Regions from separate parts of the Homo sapiens genome. Here all the other regions are reported to be linked to region 3. Evidence: microRNA targets listed by miRTarBase, many of them from high-throughput screens and not tested one by one. Region 3 holds a microRNA gene; each other region holds the end of a gene's coding sequence.

Evidence for each region. The annotated mature microRNA hsa-miR-4714-3p reads CCAACCUAGGUGGUCAGAGUUG and lies in region 3 at 1,372-1,393, shown strand. An mRNA with a match to its seed (bases 2 to 7 or 8) in the 3' UTR can be bound and repressed. Matches are read on the target gene's strand: a 7mer-m8 pairs with bases 2 to 8, a 7mer-A1 pairs with bases 2 to 7 and ends in A, and an 8mer does both.
Region 1: miRTarBase lists BDP1 as a target of hsa-miR-4714-3p. Seed matches in the 3' UTR shown: 8mer at 5,683-5,690.
Region 2: the mRNA of GJC1 is a reported target of hsa-miR-4714-3p. Seed matches in the 3' UTR shown: 7mer-A1 at 2,645-2,651 and 7mer-A1 at 4,956-4,962.

The regions. Positions count from the first base shown.
Region 1 is chr5:71,563,028-71,570,681 of GRCh38, reverse strand. BDP1 (BDP1 general transcription factor IIIB subunit) reads right to left here. Exons shown (of 39, transcript NM_018429.3): 39 at 2,862-5,928. The coding sequence ends at 5,797. Among named protein-coding and RNA genes, the nearest start is that of MCCC2, 20 kb to the left of the region's middle.
Region 2 is chr17:44,799,027-44,806,680 of GRCh38, reverse strand. It overlaps GJC1 (gap junction protein gamma 1), which reads left to right. Exons shown (of 3, transcript NM_005497.4): 3 at 844-7,654. The coding sequence starts at 864. The coding sequence ends at 2,054. Among named protein-coding and RNA genes, the nearest start is that of GJC1, 27 kb to the left of the region's middle.
Region 3 is chr15:98,783,102-98,790,335 of GRCh38, forward strand. It overlaps MIR4714 (microRNA 4714), which reads left to right and starts at 1,325; the gene lies at 1,325-1,401. All of the region lies in intron 2 of IGF1R (insulin like growth factor 1 receptor), which reads left to right. It overlaps LOC124903560 (a long non-coding RNA gene), which reads right to left and starts at 852. Exons shown (of 2, transcript XR_007064772.1): 1 at 1-852.

The DNA.
Region 1 (7,654 bases), not on the chromosome of region 3:
GCAATGCCGAACTGTTTTAGACCAGGTAGGCACAATTACTGTAATAAGCCATAGCAAAGGATTGACATAGTGTATTTTTACATGTGGGGATCTGTGATGATGGCTAATTGATCCCAAGGTTCCTGTTAGACTGACAGCCTTCTAAAGTGTTGCATGACACCTATAGACAAAACAATTCTAGGTCTGTTGTGCAAGAACCAAACTCAAGTCTCCATAGTGGAGAGAGCCTCATATCCAGTTTCCAGACTAAATAAATCAGGTTATAGACCCAAAGTCCCTTGACTGAGGGGGCAGATGGGAGCCTCTGAGGAAGGATTTTGTAATTGTGGCTTCATGGGTATACCATAAATCTTCCCCCAAGCCTTCTGCAGAGAGAACTATGGTTATTCATCAGGGTCTTTGCACTGGGGAAACAAAAATACTCAGCTATTTCACGGTTATTAAGATAGTGACTCTGAAATTATACTGATTTCCAGAGACCTTAAAAGCCTCTGTGATCCAGTTTTCAGAGTGAAGGCTAATGGAGGTTGCGTGAAAGATGGATTCTTGGTCTGACTTCTCACAGGAGCCCATCCTGTAATTATTTCCTCAGTCCCAGAATACACAGAAGTAGGATATAGCAGAATCATCACACAGTTTCCTTAACCCATGAGATAAGGCATTAAGGAAAGGCCAAGTAGAAGGTTTAAACCACCCCCATTCTCTGACCCACATAGTGAGTGGGATCTGTTGATTCCTACTACATTTCCATTTGATTCACCAGCTTGGCCAGCTGTTCAAGTCAGACAGGTCCGAATGAACAATGTTTCACATTTTTTTGTTTTGTGTGTTGGTGTTGGTGTTACACCTTAGGATCACCTGCAGATTTTTTTTTTAAATGGAGATGTCTGACGCCCACCCCCAGGCACTGCGAGTGTGTGTGTTTTCTAATTATTTTGAGACAGGGTCTCCCTCTTTCACCCACGCTGGAGTACAGTGGCACAATATCAGCGTACTGCAACCTCCACCTCTGGGCTCAAGTGATCCTCCCACCTCAGCCTCTCCAGTAGCTGGGACCACAGGCGCGTGCTAGCACACCTGGCTAATTTTTGCATTTTAGTAGACAAGGGGTTTTGCCATGTTGCCCAGGCTAGTCTCAAACTCCTGGGCTCAAGCGATCCTCCCATCTCGGCCTCCCAAAGTGCTAGGATTACAGGCGTGAGCCACTGTGCCTGGCCCTATTATTTTTTAATGTTTTTTAGCAACAGGGTCTCACTCTGTGACCCAGGCTGGCACGATCATACCTCACTGCAACCCTGAACTCCTGGGCTCAAGCAATCTTCCTGCCTCAGCCTCTCAAGTAGCTGGGACCACAGGCACACACCACCATGTTCTGCTAGTTTTTGCTTTGTTTTGTTTGTAGAGATAAGGTCTCGCTATGTCTCGCCTCAGCCTCCCAAAATGCTGGGATTACAGGCATGAGCCACTGCACCCAGACACTGATTTAACAATAAGGGATACCACTTGGACACAGAAACTTTTTAAAGCTTCCCAGGTGAGTCTGATGTGCAATAAAGTTTGGGAACCACTGGTCTTGGGGAATGACAATAAGTTATCACAGATTTAACAAATGATGTCAATCACAGCTGCAGTTGGCGATTGGTACCTTTATTAGACCAAATCAACACAACTCCTAATACCTGGAATAAAGCTAGTGCCATGAAAAAAATGCAACATTTTCCATTCCAGTAAGAAAAATTAAAAGAACTTGAATTATTGTGGCAGGGACAACTGATTTTACTGTCTTACTTCAGAGTGATATGAATACCCTCATTTTCTTTCATTATATAGTCTGGAGAGACTTTTATTTTCTTGATTTTTGACAAAAAAATGAAATGTGACATGTATAACATTATGCTAACTGGAGCTGGAAAGCACGAATTAGCAAGCAGCTAGATGTCTTAGGAAGACATACATATATAAGAGGTTGGGAGGTAAATACTGTTAAAGTTCAGGAGCCTGCCACATAGGTGAATCTCCTAAGGGTCTAGTGGTCTGAGGACATGGGATCTATTTTTGAAGGGAAGAAACAAGCTACCCAGGCATGACGGCTCACCTACCTGGGAGGATTGCTCGCACCCAGAAGTTCGAGGCTGCAGTGAGCTATGATCACGCCACCACACTCCAGCCTGGGCAACAAAGCGAAACCCCATCTCTTAAACAAAGGCAGTGGGGAGAGGGAGACAAGATTCTGCACCTTGCACTGGTCACCATGAAGACAGAAGCAACAATGTTTGAAGTCGCCCTTTGAGTTTGAGATAAAATATATTTGGGAATACTACCCCAACCTACTTACTGGGTAGCCCGTAAGACTGCCGATTTTTAGTGAAACCCAATGTAAGACAGGGCTCTCCAGCAGATTCAGGATGCGATGCTGCAGCAAACAGAGATGCTGTGTGGAGTCTCTTCCAAATACTATTAGGACAATCACATTGCAGACTCCTACAGCTTTGAAATAACGACATGCACACCTGTCAAAAATTTGTCTCCTCCCCACAAAGACAGGGTCTTCTTCTGTCATCCAGGCTGGAGTGTGGTGGGGCAATCACAGCTCACTGCAGCCTCAACCTCCTCCTGGGCTCAAGCGAACCTCTCATCCCAGCCTCCTGAGTAACTGGGACCAAAAGCACACACCACCACAGTTGGCTGATTTTTAATTTTTTTGTAGAGATGAGGTCTCATTATGTTGCCCAGGCTGGTCTTGAACTCCTGGGCTCAAGCAATCCTCCCACCTCGGCCTCCGAAAGTGCTGGGATTACAGGTGTAAGCCACGATACCCAGCCAATTCTTTATTTAGTCATCTTAAAAGGACACAACAGAAATGATATAAAATAACTTTTATTTACATAATTTATATATATATATAACTGCTTTCTTTAGAACAAGAAAATTTATAAATGACATGATATTGCTTTTTCTGTCAAAGACTTCTTCAAGCAAGATAGTATACATGGTCACTTTTGTTTCAAATAACATGATGGTAAACAGTGGATATTAATATTTTTGTCATGCCTCAACCATTTACCAACAATTAGGCGTTCAAATCCTCATGTTGACCACTTGCTAAGACATAAGTGTTCAGGAGAAAAAGTCAAGAAAAGATAAAAACTTTTACTCATATCTCCTTTAAAATTTGTGAAATAAATCCTTTGCAACATCTTCTTCACATGAATCAGACCTAACATAGTTCTTTCCAACATGTAAGGTAAATACATTGATTAACTTTCTCTTTTCCAAAATTAGGTTTAAGGATTTAACAGTAGGATACTTTAGCTGGCTGACTTGATTCTCTAATACAATGAGTCTCTGTATTCTTTATATAGTAAGAAATTCCATTTTCCATAAAACTAGCTCATTATAGATTAAAAAGAAACAGATGTTAAAGTTAAAAACTAATATTACACAAGGATAAATAATAGTTTAATCATGGCAATCTAACTCCCAAGCTAACACTAAGAGAATGAAATCTTTTCAGAATATGAGTTTTAAAAACTTACAAAAACAGGGTATTCAAATAGCAATGTGATTTACTACCATGATTTCTGTGACATATCAATCATGAAATAAATGCCTACTTATAGACAATTTCCGCTCCGAATTATATAGCCTCCTCTCTGACAAAGTGTTACGCCATAAATTTCACTAAAAGACAATGAATAAGAAGTGCTCTAACAGCAGTAGTTTCAATAAATTAGCATTACTGTTATATGTGCTGAGACATAATTCTCTTCTATTAAGGAACTTAAAAACTGGCCACCATTTTTTCAATATACAAACATAATTATCTAGACTCTAAAATATCTTCCCAACTGAAATACTGATCATTACATAATACAGTCAACAGTTTTAACTTTTAGGCACAACTCATAACTTTAGTGACAAATAACTCATCCATACAGATATCAGCACCTCAGGGTAAGAAAATTTGGGGCCTAATGTAGGGGGTCAAACTAAAAGGCCAATCCAGCCACAGTCCTTCATTCAAGTACTGTCTATGGCTTCTTTCACACTGAAATTGCAGAGCTGAGTAGCTGCCACAGAGACCATCTGGCCTGCAAACCCAAAACAGTTTGCAGAAAGTTTCCAATGCCTGAGCTACTATACTATCAATCCAAGAGGCTTTTCAAATAAAATCAGGATAAATTTGCTGTTTGAGAAGTCTAATTGGAACCACTACAGATCTGCTTGGGTAGATAATAGAATTACACGTATAAAAAATCAAATCTTGAAATTAAAACAAACCTTAAATTCATACTGATGATAATCATTAACTTTATAAAGCCTTATTTTCTCTGTTTTTAACATCATGATTATGTTCCGTGCTTAAAGATCCAAGTGTTCCTTGAGAATTTAATGGGAAAAAACTATGAAGAAATTGGCTTTTTAAAAACTAATATTATGTCTGTGGGTGTATAAAGGAGATTGAGCTTTGTATGGAAATTTTGTCTCATAAATAAAGTTGAGTTCCCCCTATCCTCATGAAAATCCTGAGATTATCCAAGAAAAGCAGAAAAATTTACAGTACAAAGTCAATATACTAAACTGAGGGGAAAAAGGTATTCAAAACATATACACCAGCTAAACATTTTTAGTTATATCATTTTAAATATCTTTAAAATTAAACAGAAAAAGGAGACAAACATAAATTTAATGCCTTCTTTATCTACAATCTGAGGGGTAAAAATAGCTAAAACTGAATATCCTTTTAAATAAAAAATTTAAAAATAAATAAGCCCTTTGATGTGTCATCTTTATAAATAATTATGTTTAAATACTAGTTTTTCAATTAGGACTAATGTTACATCACCATGAATTAGAAAAATATGTATTTTTCAGTCAGACAAACAGCTGATAATAGAAAAGTTCTTTAACATTTGCCATACTAAAGTGAAGTTTGACAATTTGTTTTCACATATAGTCACGTGTCCCTTAACTACATGTTCTAAGAATTGCCTTGTTAGGTGATCTTGTGTGAAACAACGCAGAGTGTACTTACAAACACTGAGATGGTACAGGCTGCTACACACCGTACAGACTGAGGCTATGTGGTATAGCCTATTGCTCCTCGGCTACAAACCTCTACAATGTGTTACTATGCTGAATACTGTAGGCAGTTGTAACACAATAGTAAGTATTTGTGTATCTAAACATATCTAAACATAAAAAAGCAATGCACTGTGTTATGATGGCTATAATGTCACTAGTTGATAGGAATTTATCTCCATTTTAATTGCATGGGACCACTGTAATATATGTGGTCCATCATTGACTTAAACTTCATTATGTGATACATGACTGTACTTAGAAGCAAATGAAAAAGCCTTCATCCTTCATCATCTCCCCCTAAAAATAAAAAATCTTCACAAAAGAAGTTGCTAAATGTTAAATATGATACAATTAACCCCCAAATCTGTCTGCACTGCAATTCATACAGAGACATATATCCACAACATTCCCAAATGTCCATGTGTGCTTAGCACAGGAAGAGTCAAAATGTAAACAAGAGTTGTTATTTCTGTCTGAGAAAGCAGTCTTAATTGCTTGCTATTTGCAAAATGCTGAATCAGTCAGAATGAAAGGAACCTCAGAAATGTTTTCCACTGATTATAAAAGCTTCAAATCAAGCTCATTAAGTATTCAAAATCAACCTAAAGAAAAATAAGACAGTGATATTTTGCTCTAAATACTGTTTTGTTGATGTAATTGACTCTGGAAATCCTAGACCTAATTTAAAAAAGAAAAAGAGAAAAGATTGTTTTATTCTGTTTCATCCACTTCAATGAAGATATCATTGAAGAAATATTCAGAGACTGTGGTTGCCTCCCCTTGAGGGGCCCGCTTTTGGGCACTTTTATATCCTTCTTTCAGTAAGGGCTGATCACAAGAAACCTAAAAAGGTAATAAAAATAAAGTAAAAATAAAACTGTAATACAACATTTATATATATATGTGTGTGTATATATAGCAGTCTAAACCAATATGATCTGTTTGAAAAGCAACGTGGCAATAAATATTGAGCTTTAAATATGTTCACAATCACTGACCCAAAAATTTCACTTCTATGCTGTTACATTAAGTAAATAATCCTAAACATAGTAGGAGTTTTATGACTAAGATAACCTTTGTAGCATTAGTTATAATAATAAAATAGGAAGCAACTAAATATACCACACTAGATATAATTAGGTAAATTACAGTGTACCCATAATCCATTACTTCATCCTAATTTCCATGAAAAATTTTAATAAAGAAAAATATAATATGGTTAAATCTGTCACTAAATAAAGTAAAAATACTTTAATTATTTGCATAATAGACAGACCCATGACAAAACAGCACCTAAAGAAAACATATCAAAGATACCTTATCAGAAATTAGCATACTTACAAATCTATAAACAAATTAAGACAGCATGGTATTGGCACACGAATGACAGATATATCAATGAAACAGAAGACTAGAAATAACCCCAATATATATAGAAATTTAGCATCTGATAAAAGTGCCATATCAAAAACAGTTATTGTATTATTAAATAAATGATGTTGGACAACTATATAACCATCTCAGGGGGAAAAAAGTCAGACCAATACCTTACCAAAACAAATTCTAGATGGATCAAAAGATTTAAATGTAAAAGTATTTTTTAAAAAACTCTACTATAAAAATGCCATGGAAAAACACTTTTATAATTCTGGACGGAGGTAGGTGGGGAAGGGTACCTTTTTATTTATTTATTTATTTTAAGACAAAGCCAGGCTGGAATGCAATGGCATGATCTCAGCCCACTGCAACCTCCACCTCCCGGGTTCAAGCAATTCTCTTATCTCAGCCTCCCAAGTAGCTGGGACTACAGGCACACACCACCGTGCCTGATTAAATTTTGTATTTTGGTAGAGATGGGGTTTTGCCATGTTGGCCAGGCTGGTCTCAAACTCCTCACCTCAGGTGATCTGCCCGCCTTGGCCTCCCAAAGTGCTGGGATTACAGGCGTGAGCCACCGCACCCAGCTGGGAAGAGTACCTTTTTAAACTATCTGAAAGCAGAAAGCTATAAAAGATTGACAAATTAAACAGAAATAAAAAATGTCTGCTTGACAAAAACCACCATAAATAAAATCAAAAGACAAATGACATACAGAGAAAAAAAAAATTGCAATCTTTATCACAAAGGGCCTTTTTCCCTGAATATAATAAGAACACTACAGGCCAGGCACAGTGGCTCATGCCTGTAATTCCAACACTTTGGGAGGCCAAGGCTTGAGGCCAGGCATTTGAGAACAGCATGGCCCACATGGCGAAATCCCGCCTCTACTAAAGATACAAAAATTAGCTGGGTGTTGTGGCATGCATCTGTAAGCTCAGCTAATCGAGAAGCTGAGACAGGAGAATCACTTGAACCCAGGGGATGGAGGTTGCAGTGAACCAAGATCACGCCACTGCACTACAGCCTGGGTGACAGAGTGAGTGAGACTCTGTCTCAAAACAAACACACAAAAAAAACAAAACCCACGACTTTGGCAATGATAAGCTAGACTGATATCTTGATCTCAGAAAATAATTCTAACAAATAATACAAAATGTTTTTAAAAAGTTTAAAGATGTTCTTTACAAAA
Region 2 (7,654 bases), not on the chromosome of region 3:
ATGGTGGTTCACGCCTGTAATCCCAGCACTTTGAGAGGCCAAGGCAGGCGGATCACCTGAGGTCAGGAGTTCGAGACCAGCCTGGCCAACATGGTGAAACCCCATCTCTACTAAAAATACAAAAATGATGGTGCATGACTGTAATCCCAGATACTCGGGAGGCTGAGGCACAAGAATCACTTGAACCTGGGAGGCGGAGGTTGCAGTGAGCCAAGATCACGCCACTGCACTGCAGCCTGAGCGAAAGAGGGAAACTGTCTCAAAAAAAAAAAAAAAAAACAAACAGAAGAACCAAGGTCTGAGAAATATCTCAGTAAATAGTAGCTACAAGTTTACCTTTTAAACCAGAGGAGATATGAAAGCAATCCATACTTTCTGGGACCTTGTGGGGCCAACAGGTGTTGACTGAGGTGAATTGACCTTCTTGAAGATAGTAGAGAGTGAGATGCTGTTTATTCTTTTTTTTTGAGATGGAGTCTTGCTCTGTTCAAGCAATTCTCCTGTCTCAGCCTCCTGAGCTGCTGGGATTACAGGTGCACACCACCGTGCCCGGGTAATTTTTGTATTTTTGTAGAGACGGAGTTTCACCATGTTGACCAGGCTGGTCTTTAACTCCTGACCTCAACTAATCTGCCCGCCTTGGCCTCCCAAAGTGCTGGGATTACAGGCGTGAGCCACCCTACCCAACTGAGATGCTGTTTATTCTAACATTTGTTCCACTGTGAACCTTGAGGTTAGATTTCAAGTATTCAAAGCAGTAGTTCCTAGAGATATCATAATTAGTAATTAAATTAAGATTTAATATTTGTTGATTTTATTTTGGTATTTTTCCACTTTTATCAGGGCATACCAATTCAATCACCATGAGTTGGAGCTTCCTGACTCGCCTGCTAGAGGAGATTCACAACCATTCCACATTTGTGGGGAAGATCTGGCTCACTGTTCTGATTGTCTTCCGGATCGTCCTTACAGCTGTAGGAGGAGAATCCATCTATTACGATGAGCAAAGCAAATTTGTGTGCAACACAGAACAGCCGGGCTGTGAGAATGTCTGTTATGATGCGTTTGCACCTCTCTCCCATGTACGCTTCTGGGTGTTCCAGATCATCCTGGTGGCAACTCCCTCTGTGATGTACCTGGGCTATGCTATCCACAAGATTGCCAAAATGGAGCACGGTGAAGCAGACAAGAAGGCAGCTCGGAGCAAGCCCTATGCAATGCGCTGGAAACAACACCGGGCTCTGGAAGAAACGGAGGAGGACAACGAAGAGGATCCTATGATGTATCCAGAGATGGAGTTAGAAAGTGATAAGGAAAATAAAGAGCAGAGCCAACCCAAACCTAAGCATGATGGCCGACGACGGATTCGGGAAGATGGGCTCATGAAAATCTATGTGCTGCAGTTGCTGGCAAGGACCGTGTTTGAGGTGGGTTTTCTGATAGGGCAGTATTTTCTGTATGGCTTCCAAGTCCACCCGTTTTATGTGTGCAGCAGACTTCCTTGTCCTCATAAGATAGACTGCTTTATTTCTAGACCCACTGAAAAGACCATCTTCCTTCTGATAATGTATGGTGTTACAGGCCTTTGCCTCTTGCTTAACATTTGGGAGATGCTTCATTTAGGGTTTGGGACCATTCGAGACTCACTAAACAGTAAAAGGAGGGAACTTGAGGATCCGGGTGCTTATAATTATCCTTTCACTTGGAATACACCATCTGCTCCCCCTGGCTATAACATTGCTGTCAAACCAGATCAAATCCAGTACACCGAACTGTCCAATGCTAAGATCGCCTACAAGCAAAACAAGGCCAACACAGCCCAGGAACAGCAGTATGGCAGCCATGAGGAGAACCTCCCAGCTGACCTGGAGGCTCTGCAGCGGGAGATCAGGATGGCTCAGGAACGCTTGGATCTGGCAGTTCAGGCCTACAGTCACCAAAACAACCCTCATGGTCCCCGGGAGAAGAAGGCCAAAGTGGGGTCCAAAGCTGGGTCCAACAAAAGCACTGCCAGTAGCAAATCAGGGGATGGGAAGACCTCCGTCTGGATTTAATCCTGGCGGGCTTAAAACCTGTGCTTTTCATAGTTTATGGTAAGCAGCAGCTCACTGAATAATGACTTCCATTGAGTAAACATTTGGCTCTGGTTATCTTCAGGGATGCTGTTGGCTCATGATCCAAGCTCAGGGGACTCTGGAGGCGGGGCTGGGCTGAGGGAGAGAAAGGGAAACACAGTGTTCCCAGGCACATGTTCTTAGCAATAATACAGTTGCAGAACTTTACATTTGTGTCTTCCAGATCTGGAGAAGAACAGACATATTTAAATCATTCTTGTTGAACAGTTTTTGTATGTACAGTATTATGGTACTTTTTTTTTTTTAGTATGAGAACTTTTTTTGTATTTGTACATTGAACTGCTGTAGTTATACTTTTATATTAAAGGGGAAAAAGTCCTTATAAATAATGCCTATTAGGCTAGTGCTATTACTTTGTTCAGCAAATTCTACCCTGGCTTTAGAGTTTTTAATAGATGCTACACCTAATAAAAGTGCCTCTCATATTGCAGGAACGATTTCAGATGTGTAAGGAGACTGAAGAGGAGATACCAGTTTTTAGTCTTGGAAAGCAAGTTCACAGTAGAAGGAGGTTGAGATCTTTCTTTTATGTGAGAAATCTTTGAATCTCATTCATGCGATCAGAGTTGTAGCCAATTTTTGAAAACCTTATTTTCAAAGGAAATAAATGATTCACTGTAGGATTCCTTTAAATATCAAGCATCACCAGTATATGCTTTGATGGTATATGTATATAACTTAAAGTTCTTTCAAAAGCCTGATACAGAAACGTGTCCCCAGTTTGGTAGCAATGTGGAAAACCTGGCTAGAGATGATATGGAGCTGTCCCTCAGAAAGCAAAGCCATGCCTGGAATCCCTAATAGGCTGCTTAGTTGTGAACCTGTTTGATTTGCCTTAAGCCTCTATCCAGAAACCTGCCCGCTTCCGTCTGGTTAAGAAGCCAGTGGTGGATATTTTCTTTGTTAACATTAGAAATGCAAACATTCCCTTGTCAACCAAGAATACTCAAAGCTACTTGTATTGGAAATGGCAGAAGGCCTAAATCCAAATTTCTTATTTTTTATAATTTACCATAGAAGTTTTGTGATTAAATTCTTACTTCTGCCAGTGGAGGTTTATGCCTGAAAGGTCATGGGGTCCTGTCTGTAAATAGACCTAAAGAGAAGTGCAGTATTTATTCTTTGTAGGCATAATGTGTTTGTCACTGACAAGCATTCATGTTCATCCCACTAGTCTTTTATTGCAGTCTTTTATTGTCATTTTCAGCCTTATGTTGGAGAGCTTTGCTTTCTCATCATGTTCACATTGTCTTAAGTTTTGTGAGCTTCTGAGAAAGAGCTTGGTAAAGGTTTAAAGGGGACTTTGTTCCACCAGGGAGCATTTTATTTGGGCGTCTCACCCTTTTCTAATGAAAGCTGTTGTAAGCCACCTCTGACTTGGAAATTCTGAAAGTATGAATATTTTTTATATCTTAATTGTAAAATGCCAGTTCTCCATTATTTAGATGAATAGTAGAACACTGCACCCTTTGTGCAGTGTTTTTGTTTCTCTACTGCATTCCTACCCCCACCAAAAAAAAGAAACTTAAGGAAATTTTTTTTTGAGACAGGGTCTCCCTCTTTCACCCAGGCTGGAGTGCAGCAGCATGATCTCAGCTCACTGCAGCCTCTGCCTCCCAGGCTCAAGCAATCATTCCACCTCAGCCTCTTGATTAGCTGGGACTACAGGCATGTGCCACCATACTCGGCTAATTCTGTTTTAAAAATTTTTTTTGTAGAGATGAGGTCTCACTATGTTACCCAGGCTGGTCTCGAACTTTTGGGTTCAAGTGATCCTCCCGCCTCAGCCTCTCAAAGTGTTAGTATTATAGGTGTGAGCCACCATGCCCAGCCTAGAAAATTTAACCTTATCTTTTAGCCATTCATTTACTTTTATTTGCTTTTTTAAAAAAAAATCTTTAAATTTTAGCCTAGAGAAGCACCTCAGGAACTCTAAACATCTTAGGCAAAAATTAAACTCAGGTGAGACTGAAGGAGAAATTTCAGAAATACACATGTACCTCATGGGTAATTAATAGACATGCACAGTTTCCTTCAAATCAAATGTTTAATAAGGAAATTCATATAATTCCAAGAAAACAGGCAAAATTTGGAATACATAAGCCTAGCTAAGATAAAGAACTACCAGTTAATTCTTAACATCACTGGAGCTTCCAGCAGGTTTTTTAATTGAAGGACAAAAAGTGTCCATACATTTGTGTTATCTCTTCAGAGCCTGAGGGAGAAGAGAGTGGCTTTGCCCAGTGGAAAGGCTGGGGATTTGAGAATGATACAGGGGGAAGGAGTCAAGCAGAAATGCCAGGAAGAACCAGGCAAAGACATTTGGCGCCAGAAGCATCCACTTAATTTCTGTGAAGAGTGCCCCTGGTGTTTCATCTTGGCCTGTTTTGATGAGAATGTTATCTTTTGTGTCTGGATAACGCGTCAGCTTCTTAAAGTACATATAAAGATATTCTGTCACCTCCCCACATGCACACACTTTTAAAATCTATTTTTATTCTCTTGCTAAAGTTGTAATTATGTCAAGAATTTTCCAGCTCTAACTGCCTTCTTAGTACATGTCTTTCTGCCTTTGAAGCATATGAGTTTGCCAAAGTCATTCTCCCCTAATGACATATTGTGGACTTACATTAAGAAAATGGGCCAGGCGCGGTGGCTCACACCTGTAATCCCAGCACTTTAGGAGGCCCAGGCGGGTGGATTACCTGAGGTCAGGAGTTCAAGACCAGACTGGTCAACATGGTGAAACTCCATCTCTACTAAAAATACAGAAATTAGCCAGGAGTGCTGGGTGGACGCCTGCAATCCCAGCTACTTGGGAGGTTGAGGCAGGAGAATTGCTTGAACCCAGGAGGCAGAGGTTGCAGTGAGCTGAGATCATACCATTGCACTCCAGCCTGCAAGACAGAGTGAAACTCTTGTCTCAAAAAAAAAAAAAGAAAAAAAGAAAGTGAGCCTGTTGATGTCTAGCTAACCCATTGGTGGAGTCTGCATTGAATCTGTAAGAATATTGTTCTGGATCATGCAGGTGGGATTTGTATAAAAAGCCTGTCCAACATTTAGTTCTCACTCGCATCAGAATCATACTGTTTTGAATTGCCATATAAGACATGCTCCATCATGACACTTGCTTCTCCTCCAAATACAAGTTGAGTGCTTAGTCCTTCACCTGCTAGAATCAGGATACAATCAACATGATTATGTTCCTTAACACACTTGGATTTATGCAGATGTGGTGTGTCCTTTGCTCTTTTTTTTCTTAAGACAGAGTCTTGCTCTTGTCGCTCAGGCTGGAGTGCAGTGGTGTGATTTCGGCTCACTGCAACCTCCGCCTCCTGGGTTCAAGCGATTCTCCTGCCTCAGCCTCCCGAGTAGCTGGGATTACAGGCACCACCACCATACCAGGCTGATTTTTTTTGTATTTTTAATATAGACAGGGCTTCATCATGTTGGCCAGGCTGGCAGGCTGGTCTCGAACTCCTCACCTCGTGATCCGCCCACCTCAGCTTCCCAAAGTGCTGTGATTACAGGCGTGAGCCACCGCGCCTGGCCTGCTCTTAAAACCCGTTATTCAGAAGATTTGTAAAAGAAATAGGCTTTTTTTTTTTTTTTGGTTAATTCAAACGAGGGGAAAATTAGATAGCATTTTCCCCTAAAGAAATGTTAATGTTCATTTTGTGGCTTTGTTTTCAAGTTTCAGGAGCCATGTACATCTCAGAAGTGTTACGAAGTGATTAGAAAAGGCCTCTGGTAAAAGACCTTCAAGGACCAACCATTATTATTGGTCACTTGTTTGAACTTGGCGCTTAAAAAAAAAGTTGGACTGTGATGCTTTGGTGCTCTTTATCACAGACATCAGTGATGGTCTGAAACACTCTCTAGCAGTTTATACGAAGAATGGACTTACATGTTATCAGTTACACTCATGATTTACTCGTTCAGCTTCTACAAGTCCATACTTTATGCTGTCTCATTTAAGAGACAGTCCACTTCTGAAAATAAAATCGATAGTTGATGATACATTTTTGGCTAGCCAGCTTTCTGTAAAAGGCAAGTATGTTAGACATGCACAGTTTCCTTCAAATCAAATGTTTAATAAGGTACTTCAAGAAACGCCTTTTTAAAAATCAAAGGTTTTGGCCAGGCATGGTGGCTCACGCCTGTAATCCCAGCACTTTGGGAGGCCAAGGTGGGCGAATCACAAGGTCAGGAGTTTGAGACCAGCCTGGCCAACATGGTGAAACCCCGTCTCTACTAAAAATACCAAAAATTAGCCGGGCGTGGTGGTGGGTACCTGTAATCCCAGCTACTCAGGAGGCTGAGATGAGAATCACTTGATCCCAGGAGGTAGAGGTTGCAGTGAGCCGAGATTGCGCCATTGCACTTCAGCCTGGGCAACGAGTGAAACTCTCAAAAAAAAATTCATAGTAATAATAAAGTCCCTGCATGCAGTTTGGAAATAAAATTTAAACTCATTTATGTGTAATAAATATGTAATAATTCACAGTCACCATCAAATGTTGGAATCATTGAATTGCATACTTGTACTCATTCCGGCCACATCATGAAGTGTTTAAAGATTTGTATTTGCTGTTGTCCCTATGTAGTTCTATTGATGTTTGGTTTTGTTTTTTGGGGTTTGTTTTGAGCCCAGGCTAGAGTGCAATGGCACAATCTCAACTCACTACAGCCTGGACCTCCTTGGCTCAAGCAGTCCTCCCACTTCAGCCTCCCAAGTAGCTGGTCTGCAAGTGCTCACCACCACACCTGGCTAATTTTTGTATTTTTTGTAGAGACAGAGCTCTCACTATGTTGCCTAGACTGGTCTCAAACTCCTGGGCCCAAGCAATCCTCCCATCACAGCCTCCGAAGGTGCTGGGATTACAGGCATAAGCCACTGTGCCCAGCCTGTTTTTAATAATGATATTAAGTGGGTTTGGTTCATGTGTTATTAATCAGTGTTAATAATCGTACTTTTTTTTTTTTTTAAAAGAAACCATGGTATTCTAAAATCAGGAGTCCAAATAAAAGAAAGTTCTCGGCTGTGCATGGTGGCTAACACCTGTAATCCCAGCACTTTGGGAGGCTGAGGTGGGTGGATCACTAGAGGTCAGGAGTTTGAAACAAGCCTGGCCAACATGGTAAAACCCCCTCTCTACTAAAAATACAAAAATTAGCCGGGCATGGTGGTGCACACCTGTAATCCCAGCTACTCGGGATGTTGAGGCATGAGATTTCCTTGAACCTGGAAGGCAGAGGTTGCTGTGAGCCGAGATCGCGCCACTGCACTCCAGCCTGGGTGACAGAGTAAGACTGTCGCCAAAAAAGAGGAAAAAAGTTATCCAGTGCAGTTTCTACAGAGATAAAAGAAGTAATAGTTCTGGCTGGGTGTGGTGGCTTATGCCTGTAATCCCAACACTTTGGGAGGCCAAGGCAGGTGGATCACATGAGGTCAGGAGTTCGAGACCAGCCTGGCCAACATGGCAAAACTGTCTCTACTAAAAATATAAAAATTAGGT
Region 3 (7,234 bases):
GACCTCCCCCTGCCCCCATTAAAAAAATTATTTTGAAATACTTGTAGATTCACATGCAGTTTCAAGAAATAATAAAGAGTAATTCCATGCACCATTTTCCTCCAATAGTAACATTTTGTGAAACTAGTACAGTATCACAGCTAGGATATTGACGTTAATATAGTAAGGATATATGTCATCACCACAAAGGTACACCTACTTCCCTTCTATCTCTCCTCTCTCCTTCATGCCTGGTTACAAACTAACCTGTTCTCTCTATATAAAATTTTATCATTTAATAATGTTCTGTAAATAGACTCATAGTATGTAACCTTTTGGAACTGAAGTTTTTCCATCAGCATAATTCCTTATAGATTCATTCAGGTTGCTGTGTTTATCAATAGTTTGTTTCTTTTTATTGCTGAATGGTATTCTGTGGTGTAAATGTACTACATTCCATGAGCATGGCATGTCCCTCCATTTATTTAGTTTTTCTTTGATTTACTTCATTAGCATTTTGTAGTTTTTGTAGTCCTGTGTATGTTTTGGTAGAGTTACACCCTAAGTATTTAATTTCTTTGCTCATTGCCAGTATATAGAGATACAACTTATTGAACTCACTTTTTAGTTTATGCTAGTTTATTACTAATTATCAATACATGCTCAAGATATGTCAACTCCTTTTATTTTTATTAGGTGTCACTTGCTACATTTTGTGGAGAATACCGATGCTGTTGCTAGAAAGTGCTGCTGTCACAAAGTGGGTTTATAGATAGTACCACGCTATCCTTCTTCCTAGGCTAGATTAGAAGTTATTTATGTGCTATATGCACATAGAGTTTTTGATTGGTCTATTGCAAATACTATGGCATCTGAAATTTTTTTTTTTTTTTTTTTTTTTTTTTTTTTTTTGAGATGGAGTCTCCCTTTGTTGCCCAGGCTAGAGTGCAATGGCGCAGTCTCAGCTCACTGCAGCCTCTGGCTTCCGGGTTCAAGCGATTCTCCTGCCTCAGCCTCCCAAGTAGCTGGGATTGCAGGCACCCGCAACCACACCCGGGTAATTTTTGTATTTTTAGTGGAGACAGAGTTTCACCGTGTTGACCAGGCTGGTTTCAAAGTGCTGGGATTACAGGCGTGAGCCACCGTGCCCGGCCCCTGAATCCTATTTTTAAGTATAAAAAGTCTTTTTTCAGCTCTGGATTATGGTGCTGCAAGCTGATATTCTTCTCATGGCAGTAAACAGAGAAGTCCTAGGGGTAATCTTACCCCTCTGGGGAGTCCAGGATATCTGAGCATCTCCCTTTTCTTTTTACTGCTAGAAAGAATTTCTGCTAGTAGAATTTTTATTTTGGCCAACTCTGACCCCTTAGGTTGATGTCAGAATGAGGTGTACCAACCTAGGTGGTCAGAGTTGGCCAAAATACACATTTTCCTGCTGAGCAATTTAGTCTAGGTTAAGTCATACTTGACCATATGCCCTAGTTTAGCGTCCAGTTTGTGAACATTCTTTACCTGAGTTATTGTAATTCTAATCTCTTATGTAAAACTGCAGGTAGTCAGCCCTTTGTCTCCTTCAGTTCTACATCTGCGGATTCCTTCAACTACAGATTAAGAATATTTGGGGGGAAAAACAGTAAAAAAAAATTACAATACAACAATAAAGACAACAAATTTAAAAACTAGTATAACAACTTTTTATACAGCATTTGTATTGGGTATTGTAAGCTAGAGATGGCTGAAAGTCTATGAGACGATGTGCATACGTTATATGCAAGCGCTGCCATTTTATTGCAGAGACTTGAGCATCCAAGGATTTTGTATCCGTGGGAGTCCTGGAACCAATCCCCCTTGGATACTGAGGGATGACTGTATTTACAACATGTCTAGATTTTCGACAACTTGAATTAAACCAGAAAGAATATGAACACACAGAAGTTCATGTGTATATATATATGTGTATGTGTTTAGAAGGGAGCAAGCTGTTAAACATGGGAAATAGTTGCTAGTAGTTTGTAATTTTATGATTACAATTTTAAAATTCAATTTTGCAACTGGAATTTGACTTGATTGGTTAGTGCCTTACAGTAATTAACCTCCAAATCATCAGAATGTCATCTTGTTATTTAGGTAATTGAATCTACTTTTCTTGTATACAGAATGCTTTTTGGAAACAATACACTGTATATCTAGTTTGTACCAAGAACTAATTGTACACAGTCAGATACTTGCAGTTCTTTTGGACTTGAGTTTCTTTATCCTTCTATCAGATGTCACAATTCCCTCTTCCCTTTGTAGCATATGAAAGTAGTTGTGTGTGCACTGTATTTGAGAATGTCAAGTAATAGAATCTCTAGAAAACATTCATGATTTCAGTCCCAGGTAATCCAGAGTTAAAAATAATGTTCATAAGGAAGGGTAGCAAAATTTAGATTTTAATACTTATAGGAGGTGTGTTAATTGGCCCCAGGGCCGCAGGCTTTAGCGTTCAGAGGACTTTAGCCCCAAAGGTTTTGTGGAACTTTTCCAGAGTCCTCACCAGTACATTGGGAATAAATGGAATGCCTTTGGAAGTACTTTGAAGATTGAATTCGATAGTGTTGGTAAAGCAGTCTAGCCTGCTGTGATTGTGCTATTGATGCAAATATTCTCTAGCCTGTATTATTTTTCCTTGGAGCTCAGGAAGTGATCCCCACCCACCTCAAGCAGTAAAGGAAAGAGAGGCAGGAGGGTCTGACCATGTGAGGTGCCCCAATAAAGCATCTGTATTGTAAATCAGGAATGTAGGTATTGGGTTTCCTTAAAACAAAGCACACCTACGTGACCACTAGCTGGAGCACAATGTGGGCTCGGTCTGCTGAAAGAGTCAGTTGGTTGCGGCTGTCTAATCCAATTATGGATGGTCCCAGCGCTCAGCCTTTCAGCTGCTGCCCCTCCCCTGCAGACTCTGCCTCTCTCACCCTCCCTTTTAGGGCTTGGTCTGTGGCTACCCCAGAAATCACGTGCACTCCTAGGCTTCAGCGAGTACAGCCTTGTTAATCTCAGACATGGAAAGCAAGTTGCCTAGGTCTACAGATGAGTATTCAGTTTCCCCACCAGTTGACCTCAGTGCAGGTTTTGTTGGTTCCAGTCATTTGGGGTCAGCACCTGTTTGAAGCCAGGACACTTAGAACAAGGTGGAGGAAAACCTGAGGGTACATACAGTGTGGTTTCCTTGGCTCATCTAATGCAGAGTCAGAATGATTAGCCACATTGCAAATTGTCTTTACTCAGTGGTTTAATTGTTAACCAGGGAGTTAATTTTTTTTTTTTATTAAACAAAGAAGAAAACACCTCTAGATTTTTCTGGGACAGATGGCCCCATTGAAAGAGGCCATGTGCTGCAGCGAATGGCCAGGCCTCGGGTGTGGCAAGTGCCTTCCAGCTCAGTGCTTGCTTTGTGCTCCTTTGCCTATTTGAAGACGTGGATGAATCAAAATCTATAAGCCTATTTCAGTCAAGTATTCTAAGGAACCTGGAAACACAGGGGATTTCTCTGTTGCCTCTAATACAGTGAAAAACCACTGTCTTTTTTTGTTGTTGTTGTTGCATTGGGGGAAGAAAGTCCAGGTTTGCATGTACATTTTCACTCATAGGATTTTTTTTTAGAATAGTTTGGGGAGGACATTGTGCTCTGGCCAATAACTGGGCCAGTGTCTGGTCACAAGATGATCAGGCAGGTGCCTGCATGACTGTAGGACAGAGAACTGGGCAGCTAGAGAGCCTGTGTGGAACGTGAAGCCTTTCCCCACTTTGTTGCCGTCCTAACCTTTTCTCAAGTCATGGAGAATTGATCCTTAGACATTCCTTACCTCTCTCACCCACTTGAGGATTGCTCAGAGCCTGGGTTTCGGATTGAAATAGCACTATTTCTGGTTGGTGACGACATTCTGTGAGCCAGCAATGTAGTTTAAATATCCACAAGAGCGCCCTGGTTCCATCAGCGCCCCTTCGTAATTGGTCATGAGACTTGGACCTCCTTCGGGGCTGGGACTCGGGCAAGGGAGTTGAGTAGAGCTTCTCTTTCTGGGCTCCTGGGAAGGATTCATGGCATAAAAGTGGGACTTCAGCATTCTCTGGGCACACCTGTCTCTGTTTTTGTCCTCTCCTGAATCTTTCTGGCCTGCAGAGCAGAATAAAGTCACTCTGTGCCAACCTGACTTTTGTTCATGACTATATTAGGGGCATGGATAGAAAGTGCCCCCATAGCACTCTCAGATAAAACACCTTCAAACAAACCCAGAAACCCATGCTCACAAAACCACCCACCTTAAATTATGAAACTTTCAGGCTGACTAAATCCTGAAGGCGTTGGAGCGTGAGCAAAGGGAAAATGGTGACACAGAGCTTTGCCCTTCCTAATCCAAATGAAAAGCTCTGTAACCCTCCCCCCACCTTTGCTATCAAGAAATGTTGGACCTTTGGGAAGCAGATGTAGAGTATTGATCCTTAAAACAGAGACCTCTCACCCTAGGTCTCTTAAAACAGAGACCTTAAAACAGAGTATTGATCCTTAAAACAGAGACCTCTCACCCTAGGTCTCTTAAAACAGAGACCTCTCACCACTTTCTAACTGAAGTGGGTTCCACATTGGAAGTACTTTGCAGAAACTTCTATTACCGCAATTACTTTTGCACCAACAAATAGTATCCTCAACTCAGAAGGAAAGAATTGGAACACTCAGCTGGAGGTGTCTGGTAGGGACATGTGTCTGCTTTTTGAATCAGTCGTATATGTTTTTGTTCCTGTGCCTGGAGGCCCTTTGTGGTGTGAGAACATTGAATTTGGAGAGGGAAAGGGAGACAAAAGAGAAATGGGGGTGATGCTTAAGGGAAAGTAGGGTTTTTAGTTTGTTCACCACGCTTGATGGCAGATTTGCCTCTGGATCCTCAGGCCACGTTCCTATGGTGGGTAGGGATCTCTCTCTCTCTCTCTCTCTCTCTCTCTGTGTGTGTGTGTGTGTGTGTGTGTGTGTGTAAATAGTGATTTCTCTAAGTTAATAAAGAATGTGGGGTGACCTCCTACACATGCCCGTATGCTATTGTGTAGGAACAAATGCATGGTAGGAATGGGTAGACTCTAATCTGAAAGCATCAAGTTGTATGCATCTTCTGCAATTAGGAATCTGCTCACCAGCACGAGTGCTGTGGTTTCTGTAGTTCTGGGATTCAGAGGAGCATTTTAAAGATGTAGGATGTTAGAGGAGGAGGTGCAGGGATCTCCCCTTGGGTAAAGAGTGGGAGACAGTCTCTGAGTCATAATCTGGGACCAGTGGAAGGTCAAAGGGAAGAACTGTCCTGTTGTCTGCTAAGTCACAGGCTTCCTTCCTGTTCTCTGAGCCCTGTCACTTACCCAAGGTGCAGCAACAATTAGTGTCTGTTTACACATAACAGACATCTCTTTCATAAAATAATTTTTAAGGCATTTGTTTGGTAGAAGCTTCCCTGTTTGGGGGAGTCTTTTCCCTGAATGCATGTAAATAACTTCACAGTTTGCGCAAGTTTGCAAACGGTCTATACTGCTCAGCCTTGATTGGGCTACCCAAGGATGCGCCCGCCCTGCTGAGGTCTGACAGCTCTGGGAGGCCAGTGAGGCCTGTCCTAATCCCTGTTCTGGCCGGTGATTCAGCTCCAGGTGGAGGCTGTGCAGAAACAGCCCCGGTCATCTTTGTGTGAAATACATTTGTCGTCTTCATTTTCTTTTTTCTTCTGCTGGTATCTTCATGGTTTTCAGCAAAACTGTGTACATTACATTTTTTTCTTTACCATTTCTCCGTAGTTATTTCTAGCATTTTTTTTTCAGCTGATGAAAGCAAATGAAGAATTTTTATGCTCCATAGTCAGTCAAACATTGATTTCTCTGACTTTTAACTTAGAAAGTCATTTTGCAGTGGCTTGCGTGTGTGTATTTAGACTGTGCTTCTACAAAAAAGCACACGTAGGCTTATGGCTCAGTTTACTTGTTCCAGCTCACTTTCCTGTTCATTTACCTTCTTGTAAAATGGAAAGACAAACATACCTTAAACTTAACTCAGATCGTGATTGCCAACTTTGTTCTCTGTGTGTAAGTAGTTATATTATTCCTAGGTTATGGCATCTTGATTTATCTTTGAAAGAAGAAAACCCTCACTGAGTTGACAGGGACACATTGTTCTAGGCTTCTACAATTGTGCTGATGACGCTTTTTCCCATTGGAATGACAGGGATGATAAGGTCGGCTGGCTAGCCTTTTTTTAAAATGTAGAAAACCACAACTTTAATTTATAGCATCATCATTTTCCTTATGTATGTAGTATGTTTCAAAAATAATCCAATGTCAGATTCTTGCTTCTGTGATCAAGGTCTTGTTTTTGCCCTTTCTTTGCTCACCACCTCCCTGCCCCTGACGCCGAGTCCTCGCCTTAGAGGAGGTGGTCAGCTTATATTGCAACATTGAAAATGTTATACCTTACAAAGAAGGTGATATGCCATTTCTTAATTATAATGATGTGCAACAGTGACTTCTGATGTAGACCTTTAACATTGGGCCACGCAGCTTTTTCTTTGGAGGAGGGGCATTTCAAATTGGATGATGCTCTTATAGTTTAATAAAGAAACAAGCAAACAAAATAGGCTATACAGGGCATGTGTTCTTAAACTCTGTGACAGTGGAGGTGAACCCAGGGCCCTTTCATGGCCTTGGGAGGGTCCTCAGCTTTGGGGGCGAGTTATCTGGGTGGAAAAGCACCATGGGAGGAAGAAGTCAGAGAGGCGGGTTGCTGGAGCTCAGAGAATAAAAGCAAGTCTCTGCCCTGAAAATGGCCCTGATTTGCTTCAGATGTACTCTGTCTGCCAACATTTAGTGTCTGTGACTTAGCCAAAGGAAATGTACATTAACTGTTCAGTTTCTATGTAGTTTGTGCTCTAGGATTTTGCCTCCGGAGGATTTCTGTGAAGGAAGCTCTGTTCAAGTGGCTCTGTTCCACTTGGGTTTGGAAAGAGGCCGGGACAGGTGATTTCGAAGGAAGGATGAGGACAATGGAGGAGATGGGCTTGGTCATTGCAGTGTGTGAGGTGGCCCAGCTTATCTGGCATTTTGGGGTACTATATGTGCCATATGAGGTGGGTATGGGTGTTTGAAGGGAAAGGGGGTGGCCTGGGCAACTTGTGTCCTTGCCTAGAAAGATCATCACTCTTTTTATTTAAAAGAAACATGTGAAAGAGCCATCAGGGATAGTTTT